Homo sapiens: one gene and its partners. The protein of the gene in region 1 purifies or fractionates together with the protein of each later gene. This does not show direct contact. Each region holds a gene or a part of one and is shown in the gene's direction. Other genes may lie near its edges.

Evidence for each region.
Region 2: the proteins of SRPK3 (region 1) and LLPH purify together in Homo sapiens (affinity purification with mass spectrometry; 2 studies listed by BioGRID and IntAct, with this or other methods). This does not show direct contact.
Region 3: the proteins of SRPK3 (region 1) and RBM34 purify together in Homo sapiens (affinity purification with mass spectrometry; 2 studies listed by BioGRID and IntAct, with this or other methods). This does not show direct contact.

The regions. Positions count from the first base shown.
Region 1 is NC_000023.11:153,779,534-153,783,286, forward strand, and holds the start of SRPK3 (SRSF protein kinase 3), read left to right. Parts: upstream 1-1,507; 5' UTR 1,508-1,553; coding exon 1,554-1,612; exon of another isoform or gene 1,613-1,682; coding exon 1,683-1,813; exon of another isoform or gene 1,814-1,971; coding exon 1,972-2,080; exon of another isoform or gene 2,081-2,209; coding exon 2,210-2,297; exon of another isoform or gene 2,298-2,587; coding exon 2,588-2,675; exon of another isoform or gene 2,676-3,238; coding exon 3,239-3,345; exon of another isoform or gene 3,346-3,419; coding exon 3,420-3,585; exon of another isoform or gene 3,586-3,692; coding exon 3,693-3,718; exon of another isoform or gene 3,719-3,753. UniProt on the Homo sapiens protein: Serine/arginine-rich protein-specific kinase which specifically phosphorylates its substrates at serine residues located in regions rich in arginine/serine dipeptides, known as RS domains.
Region 2 is NC_000012.12:66,118,333-66,120,833, reverse strand, and holds part of LLPH (protein LLP homolog), read left to right. Parts: 3' UTR 1-2,501. UniProt on the Homo sapiens protein: In hippocampal neurons, regulates dendritic and spine growth and synaptic transmission.
Region 3 is NC_000001.11:235,137,237-235,140,889, reverse strand, and holds part of RBM34 (RNA-binding protein 34), read left to right. Parts: intron 1-2,715; coding exon 2,716-2,799; intron 2,800-2,949; coding exon 2,950-3,013; intron 3,014-3,653.

The DNA.
Region 1 (3,753 bases):
GGACAGGCTGGTCTCAAAACTCCTGACTTCAGGTGATCTGCCCGCCTCAGCCTCCCAAAGTGCTGGGATCACAGGCATGAGCCACCGCGCCTGGCCAGAAATGTCTTTTGACAAAGGGCCCAATCCCCAGCCCCTGCTGTTCCCTGCAGGAGCTGACTCAGTGCTCTCCTGACTGAGAGTCCCTCAGCCCCATGCCTATAACCTGCTACCCACAGACAAAGAGAGGCCATCAGGTACCCGGGCTTCACTTTCCCTCCCACTCTCTGACCTCGCTGGCCCCTCCAGCAATGCCTGGCCCACCCCTACCAGTTCACGGACCCTGGTACAGGGACACTGCACCAATATCTTGGGACAAACACCCTCTCTGCCGAGCCCCCTCCCTTTCATTGGGACTCCTCTGTCAGGCCCCAGCTGGCCTCCCGGCTCCACCCTCGCCTCTCCATTCCCTTGTCCTTGAAGTGGCCAGAGTGATCTTTTGCTGAGCAGAAGCTCAGTGACCACCCCCCAACCCCATATCACCCAAGCTCCACATTAAGCCTACAGACACCAGGCCTCTAGTCCTCGCCCTCGAACCATGCGGCAGCCGTGGCCAGCACGTGAAGGGCTGGAACGCGTCTTGGCCGCAGGCCTTGCCCCACTGTGCCCTGTGCTGCCCTGGATGCTTCTGGGGACCCAATTTCTCCTGGTCTCTCATGATGCAGCCCCTGGGTCACAGGCCCCTCAGTCACCACCGCACTCATGGGGAAGTGGCTATGGGCTTGCTTGTCCCCAGCAGTGAGCAGCTTCCTGCTGCCTCCCTCATGTCTGGCTATGGAGCAGCCCACGACAGGCACCTTGCAAATGGTGGAGAGGAAGAGCAGGCGCTGGGAGCCAGAGCGCCAGGCAGCGTCGCAGGAGCAGGTTCTGGGCTGGCAAGCTCCCAGGCCTCCCCTCAGCAGGCCTGTTGCCTCTGGTAGGGGAAATGAGGGGTCCCCAGTGACGCCACATTCAGAGGGCACTGGACTCCCAGTTGTCCTAGGGGCTGATGAAACATAGAAGAAGCAGGAAGTGGCTGGGAGCAGCCAGGGACAGGGTTCCCATGGGAATGAGAAGGGCACCTCCAGGAGGATGCCCACAGGGGCACAGGTGGTGGGGGCTTGGCCTAAGGACCAGGTTGCCAAGTGGAGCACATCCCCACAGTCCGCACCGGAGAACGGGAGCCCGACCTGGGGTACGGGCTGCTTCACCCCCGCGTGGACCTCCCCCTCAGCTGGGGTGCGGAGGCTCAGCCTGGGGGCCCAGTTGCCCCTGGTCCCCAAGCAGCAGCCCCCTCTGCCTCCAGGGTGGGCCTGGAGCAGGAGGGGGGCCTCTGCCCGGGGGCCGGGCTCTCTGGGGCCGCCGTCGCGCCGCCCCCTCCCCGCACCGCATACCTTGCCCACAGCCGAGCAGCTGGGAGGCTATTTATAAAGGCGGGTGAGATCAGCGGCCGGCCAAGGCTATAAATTCGCAGGCCGCGGCCGGGCCCCACAGGAGCAGCCGCCCGGGGCACCGGAGCTGCGGGCTGCGTGGCCGGGATGAGCGCCAGCACGGGCGGTGGTGGGGACAGCGGCGGCAGCGGCGGCAGTAGCAGCAGGTAGGGCTCGGCTGGGGCACCCGGAGCCCCTGGCGTCTCTCATGCCCACTGCCACTCACCCCACCCGCAGCTCACAGGCCTCCTGCGGGCCCGAGTCCTCGGGCTCCGAACTAGCCCTGGCCACACCGGTGCCTCAGATGCTGCAGGGCCTTCTGGGCTCCGACGACGAGGAACAGGAAGACCCCAAAGACTACTGCAAGGGTGAGACTTGGCCTTGGGGACATGCGGCCTCACGGCCACTGCAGGGACCCAGGGCAGTCCTGGGCCCACATGGGCCAGATGGTCAATGGGGCCGAGGTGTTCGGGGGCCCAGGGGAGTGAGAACCCCCTCCACCCCAATCTACATCTCCCCTGGGCAGGCGGCTACCACCCTGTGAAGATCGGCGACGTGTTCAATGGGCGGTACCACGTGGTGCGCAAACTGGGCTGGGGCCACTTCTCCACCGTCTGGCTCTGCTGGGACATCCAGTGAGTGCCTCCTTCGCCTCCGGGGCCCAGCACTGGCTGGGATCCTGTCCCTGGGCTTGCTTGGGGCCACCCTGATCCCCGCCGTGGGTCCTGCCAGGGCCACAGCCTACAAGGGTCTCGGTATTGCAGGCGCAAGCGCTTTGTGGCCCTCAAAGTGGTGAAGAGTGCGGGGCATTACACGGAGACAGCTGTGGATGAGATCAAGCTCCTGAAATGTGTGAGGCACCTCCCTACCCCACTCCCAGCTCCCCTGGAGCTGCCTGGGGCCTGGCAATGCGGGTGCAAGGCCTGCCGGGGCTCTGTGGGGCAGGGCGGGGCTCCCTGAGGGGCAGCCTCCAGCTGGCTGTGCCCAAGGGGGAGGATCTGGAGGAACAGGCGAGGGACAGGAGGGGTTGGCGGCCTTTCTTCCAGCAGGGCCCAGCTGGAGCAGGAGAAGGGTACACTGAAGGGAGCTGTGGGCTTCAGGGCAGGGTGGAACCATCTGTGGCCCCTTGGCTTTTGCTCCAGGTCCGGGACAGCGACCCCAGTGACCCCAAAAGAGAGACCATTGTCCAGCTCATTGATGACTTCAGGATCTCAGGAGTCAATGGAGTCCGTATCCTTTGCAGGAAGAGCAAAGCAGTGTGGCAGCCAAGGGCCGGCAAATGGGGGGGCCCTCGCTGCTAGAGCCTGTCTGCAGACCCGCACAATGGGCTTGCATCCCTCCCAGTAACGGGAGCCTCTGGCACGACCCCGCCCCCAGGTAACTGTGTTTACGTGGAGGCAGTAACAAGCTAGCGTTGATTGTCCATGGACGTTGCTATTATCCCCAAACGGCAGGTGCTGTCTCTGTGGCACTGCCTTCCCTTTGGGGGACTGCCAAGAGGCCCTATGGCATAACTAGCATGGGAGTGGGCTGGCCCGAGAGGCCTCTGTGCCTGCTCCTCCAGCGCCACCTCTAGGATGACCACAAAATGCACCATCCCAACTGGCATACCTGTTGAGACTGACAGGGACACTATCGATGATGACACCAGCATAATGGTGACCAGGACTGCCCAGGGGAGGCCCTGCCTCCCCACCTCCACACGGCCCAAGCCTTGCTGCTCCCCTAGCTGAGGGTGGGTGGGGCCTGTGCCGCAGCTGGTGTCCACTGGCCGCCCTTCACTCCCAGCCCAGATGTGTGCATGGTGCTGGAGGTGCTGGGCCACCAGCTCCTCAAATGGATCATCAAGTCCAACTACCAGGGCCTGCCCGTGCCCTGCGTGAAGAGCATCGTGAGGCAGGTGAGTGCCACCCACTGGGCTGCCCAGCCTGGCCTGGGCGGGAGTTGGAGGAGGTCAGGTGCGACTCTCTGCAGGTGCTGCACGGCCTGGACTACCTCCACACCAAGTGCAAGATCATCCACACGGACATCAAGCCCGAGAACATCTTGCTGTGTGTGGGGGACGCTTACATCAGGCGCCTGGCTGCCGAGGCCACGGAGTGGCAACAGGCAGGGGCGCCGCCCCCCTCCCGCTCCATAGGTACCAAGGGCCCACATGGGGCTGGGTCGGGGCCTCTGGGCCTGAACCCCTGCCTGAGTCTCTGTTCCTCCCTGTCCCCCCCCACCGCTCCCCACCTGCACTCCCAGTCAGCACTGCCCCCCAGGAGGTCTTGGTAAGTTGGGGGGCCCCTCTCTCCCATGCCTCCTC
Region 2 (2,501 bases), on another chromosome or scaffold:
CAGGGGTATGGTCACATCTTTGGCACTTTATTTTTAAAGATTACAAATCGAGAAGTATAGCATAGTCCTTTTATCTTTTAAATAATTAGCTTATTTTTTTGAAATTTGTCATCTTTTTGACTGACATTTTCCAGAGAATTGCTGTAAAGCCACAAGATGGAGCTCAAGCTAAGCACCAAATCATTTTGGAATTAGATTGAGTGAGCTAAATCACATTAGGAATTGAATGTAACACTTTTTGTGTTTTAAGAAATTAAGTCTGAAATCAAAATATAATTTAAAGATGATCAAAACTGCTTCAAGTATTAACTCATTTAATCTGCCCAGCAATCTCATGAGTTTGGTACTAATGTTATCTGAGTTTGGTACTAATGTAATCTCTGTTTACACATGGGGAAACTGAGGCACACAGGCCATACAACTAAAACTGAAATCTGGGATTCAAATTTAGGCAGTGTGGCTCTAGAGCCTATACTCTTACAATGCCATTCTGCCTCTCAAGGATGTGCAAACTCTTGCTAAGAGAGAAAGGTGATTTTAGGATAGAATACCTATTTTTGGGTCAACCTGTGATAGATTGGGTTCATGTGGGCTCAGGATCAGATAAAGAGCAGGTTTAAGTAGAATAATGATGTACAGAACCCTCCTCAAATCTCTAGGCCTAAGGCAGACTGGATTTCCTCAGGTGACACTTCATTAGGAATGGGCTGACCAATCCAAAAGGGGAAGGTGTAGGCCATGATCAGTAGTTGCCCAAGGTACTAATCAGAGAAGAAATGCAAACTGCAGTTGAAGCTCTAAGGTAGAATCAAGTAGTGGTTTTGACCACATCCTATTTTCTACTGTCACATTAGTGTAGATATCTCTTCCCACTATGTAATTCACATGCTACATCAAATAAGGATGCAGCAGTATATATTTGCTTATTAGGAAATTCAGATATTTTCAAAATTTGGATCCGTGTTTCTGGAATATGGCTTAAGAGTTGGAGAAGAAAAATAGCTATAAATGACTTGAATCAAATATCTGAAATGGACTGGTGGTGATGGTGAGGGGCAGCAATGTGTAATTTAGGGAAGTGCTGACCACAACATAAAATTGGGAGGAATCTAAGGCATTGCCAAATTTATAAATACTACAATAGAAATGCAGATGCTAAGCTGTTGGCTAATCTTACTAGTTAAGTGACTAACTTCTGATGCCATCTGGCAGAGTGATTCAAATTTGTGCTAAACACAAAATATATGTCTTTTTCCCTCTATTTGCCTGCATGTATTAATAAAAACACTGTTGCAGTAGACACATACCAATTTTACAAGGAAATGTTTAGGGGTGAGGTGGGACTGTTAAATACTTACATCAGGTCAAAGGTCACTCTGCTGTTTCCAGAGGACTGTCAGGTAGCCAGGAGGCCCAGGGCCACTTTTGGGCCTGCTTACAAAACCCTAAATTTTCCGCAGTTGAATGCCAAGAGTCTTTTGCAGTTATTTTAGAGCAGGGGAGAAAATACAATGTGTTGCCAAATAAGCTTAATTTGGTAGGCAAGCAGTAAAAATAACCCAACAGCCAACATTTAGAGAATGCGTACTCTCTTAAATGCTTTATGTATATTATTTAATCTTTAAAACACTGTGGGATCAATACTTTAATTATCCCTATTTTCAGATGAGAAAACAGTTTGAAAGGTTAACTAAATTTACCCAAAGTCATGCAACTGCTAAGTAGTGAGCAAGCCGCCTGTCCCAGAGTATAGAATGAATACCTATGATGGAAAGCTACAGAGAGACAGACTTTTATTTGATTTAAGGAAGCGCCTTCTAACCAAGATTTTGGGAGCTGAAATGGGCACCTTGGGATCCTTGAGGTGTCAGTCTAAGGTGGACAGGCATTTGGTTGGAATGTAGCAAAATGGATTCAAACACTGTAGAGTTATCCTTCAGAATCTATCGGGGATTGGTGCCAGGATCTTCACAGATACCAAAATCCACAGATGCTCGAATCGCTTACATAAACTGGTGAAATATTTGCATATAACCCATGCCCATCCTCCCATATATAGTCATATGTCACTAAATGACTGGGATGTGTTCTGAGAAGTGTGTCACTAGGTAATATCGTTAATCATTGTGTGAATATCATAGACTGTACTTACACAAATCTAGAGGGTATCGTCTACTACACTTAGGCTATGTGATATAGCCTATTGCTTCTAGGCTACAAATTGGTCAAGCAAGTTACTGTACTGAGTACTGTAGGCAATTGTATCACAATGGGAAGTATTTGTGTATCTAAACATAGAAAAGGTACAGTAAAAATACAGTATAAAAGATAAAAAAATGGTACACCTGTACCACTTATGAATAGTGCTTGGAGGACTCGTGCTTGGGGTGAGTCAATGAGTAAGCCATGAGTGAATGTGAAGGCCTCAGACATGACTGTATACTGCTGTATATTTTTTTTTTTTTTTTTTGAGACGGAGTTTCACTCTTGTTGCCCAGGCT
Region 3 (3,653 bases), on another chromosome or scaffold:
TCCCACCAGAGTAGCTAGATATAGAGTGTCGATTGGTGCATTCACAGACCCTGAGCTAGACACAGGGTGCTGATTGGTGTATTTACAATCCCTGAGCTAGACATAAAGGTTGTCCACATCCCCACCAGACTCGGGAGCCCAGCTGGCTTCACCCAGTGGATCCTGCACCGGGGCTGCAGGTGGAGCTGCCTGCCAATCCCATGCCGTGCGCCTGCACTCCCCAGCCCTTTGGTGGTCGATGGGACTGGGCGTCGTGGAGCAGGGGGTGGCGCTCCTCGGGGAGGCTCGGGCCGCACAGGAGCCCATGGAGGGGGTGGGAGGCTCAGGCATAGCGGGCTGCAGGTCCCGAACCCTGCCCTGCGGGAAGGCAGCTAAGGCCCGGTGAGAAATCGAGCGTAGCGCCAGTGGGTTGGCACTGCTGGGGGACCCAGTACATCCTCCGCAGCCACTGGCCCGGGTGCTAAGCCCCTCACTGCCCGGGGCCGGCAGGGCCTGCAGGGCCGGCCGGCTGCTCCGAGTGCGGGGCCCGCCAAGCCCACGCCCACCTGGAACTCCAGCTGGCCCGCAAGCGCCGCGCAGCCCTGGTTCCCACTCGCGCCTCTCCCTCCACACCTCCCTGCAAGCTGAGGGAGCCGGCTCCGGCCTTGGCCAGCCCAGAAACGGGCTCCCACAGCGCAGCGGTGGGCTGAAGGGCTCCTCAAGTGCCGTCAAAGTGGGAGCCCAGGCAGAGGAGGTGCGGAGAGCAAGCGAGGGCTCTGAGGACTGCCAGCACGCTGTCACCTCTCAAGAAGAATCCAGGTGGGGCTTTGTGCCTTTCCCACACTTTGGCCATTCCGTCCTCCAGGCCTGCAGCACCCATAGCTGCGATCTCAGCCTTTCCCAGGGAGTGGAGGTCAGTGGGGCAGATCCTGAGGATGGGCGCACACTCCTGCCTCGGCAGCTTCCAGGACTTCTGTTTCAGGCCCAGCCCACGCTGAGCTCTAGTGTTTTAGTGAGATCATGGCTGGAATCTTTCCTGCTTGTCTGGTGCCCAGCATTTTGCCCCTGTGCTCGGCCATCGTAGAGCCAGAAGAGCCAGTGCTTCCTCTGTCTCTCATTGGAGGAAGCAGGCCTGTCCTTAGCTTCTAGCTGCTGGCTTTCCCCAAGACTTCAGCTCTGTGATGGCTGCAACAAAAGTTATGATGCTGTGGGTTATCTGGTTTCTTCTTAACTGGTAAGAGCAGGAGTGATGCACTTTCTGGCTTTTTACATTCTAGGTGGAAGCGGAACTCCAGCATTTGTTCCTGGGGGTGCACTAGGATGTGTTGGATTTGGATGTTGTCGGCAGCTGTGTGTTGTGTGAAGAGCAGGGCTCTAGAGTCAGCTAGACTTGGTTTCAGTCCTAGGCCAGCCACTTGTTGCCATTTCATCGCAGTCACGTACCTCTTCCAGTCTCAGCTTCCTTATTCATAAAATCAGAAAAAAAACACCGTGTTGGAGATGTGAGATTAAATGAAATACATAAAATGTCTAGCTGAGTGTCTGGTATATATTAGGCATTCAGTAAATCACAGCTGGTTTAATCAATACAAAAGCATTAGTATAGTGTATTATTACAGAATGCCATCAGTCATGTCAGGCACTATTTTCCAGTTCCCTTCTTGATGATACTCATTTGTGTAGTAGCATTTTTCTTACTTCAAAACAGTAGGTTGATGTCTTCAGGGAAAGATCTGTGTTCATTACTAGGTCCTTTTTGCTAACTCCTCACATCCAAATTATATCACCATTTTGCAAACCTAGTGACTTAATGAGTTTAGGCATTTAGTAGCAGCAGCTGCAGTCATTGACAAAAGGGTAAAAACCAGTCATAACATGACTCCCTGGAAAGAACACAACACCCACCAGCAGTCGCGACAAAGGGGTCATGTCTGAGTCTGATCCATCCTTTTGATGCAGCTGCCAGTTTACAAGAAATATAGAGGACAAAGGTTTGTGTTAAACTACTTGATGAGCTTGCAGTCACAAAATCCAGGCTGTGGGGAATTCTGCAGGCCAAATAGTGAGAGATAAAGAGATACAGAGAAAACTCTGTAAATTAAACAAGATTCAAAAGACATATCAGGTCAAAAGTATAGACAAGACCAAAGTATGATGTCTAAGAATAGACACTTGGTTGATAAAACCACAAAGATGTGCAGGGAAGTAGTTCCTATAAAAATGGGAATGGTGGTTGCCTTTGGAGGGAAGGAGGGGCTGCAACGGGAAAGGGCCACAGAGAGGCTTCTGAGTGGGCTACAAGGCACGTTGAGCTGTTGTTAATTCACTCAGCTATACGTAGTTTGTGCACTCTTCTATATGGGTGTTTCACAGTAAAGAGGAAAACTCACGTCTTTCACAACTGTTTATATGTGTGTTAGATACGGACTGCAGCTAAGATGTCAGTTTTTAGTTCTTGTATGGTTCTCAGGGATTCATATACATGGTTCATCTGTTTTCTCATGGTTATGATTCCTAAGAAAGTATGGGTTGTGTCTCCACTAATATCTTTATAAGTTGTGTGTTATTTTTTGAGTTATTACTAAATATTTATTCAAAGAGATGAAATGTCCACCCAGGAATTCTTGTCATGTGTGTTAAGAGTTGAAAACAGCTAGATTTTTTTCTAGTGACTTTGAGGCTAAGAAATTTACCTTGTCTCTCTTTTCTTTCTTTCTTTTTTTTTTTTTGGTGTAGACGTAAAATTCATCCTGATCAGAAAAATATTAATGCCTATGTTGTGTTTAAGGAGGAGAGTGCTGCCACGCAAGCATTGAAAAGGTAATTTTATCCCTTAGGTTTGAACAGAATAATTGTCCTATAAGTATGTATGAGTACTTTTTTTATTCTTTGGTTTCACTTTAGCATAGATGTTTTAGTAATCGAGTGCTCATTTTTAACAACCATTTTCCCTTTGTATTTATAATACAGAAATGGGGCCCAGATTGCAGATGGATTTCGTATTAGAGTTGATCTCGCATCTGAGACCTCATCTGTAAGTAGTACTTGATTTGTTTAAAGAACGAGAGCTTTGTAGAGAGAAATGTTTCCTTCCAGGCTTTTCCTGGAAGGGGACTGGAATCAGCAATGTGAGGGAAGCGCAGAAGGAAACAGCCTATGTCCTCTGTGGTTACAGAGTTGATGGCAAGAGAGGCACAAGGACCGAGGTCAACATTCCCTTCAAAAACGTAGTCCTGGCTGGGCACAATGGCTCATGCCTGTAATCCTAACATTTTGGGAGGCCAAGGCGGGAGGATCACTTGAGCCCAGGAGTTAAGAGCAGCCTGAGCAATGTAGCAAGACCCTGCCTTTACAAAAAAAAAAAAAAAAATTAGTCAAGTGTGTGATGCATGCCGACAGTCCCAGCTACTCAGAAGGCTGAGGTGGGAGCACCACCTGAGCCCAGGAGTTTGAGGCTGCAGTGAGCTGTAGTCGTGCCACTGCATTCTAGCCTGGGCAACAGAGGGCGACCCTGTTTCTTAAAAAGAAACAAAAACATAGTCCTCTTCAAATAAGCATAATTAGGTCAGAAGGTACATTAGACATCATCTGGTCTAACACATTATAGACCGAGGTCTAGAAAGTTCAATTATTCATTAGACAGTTTTTAGTACACACTCTGTCAGAGATGCAGT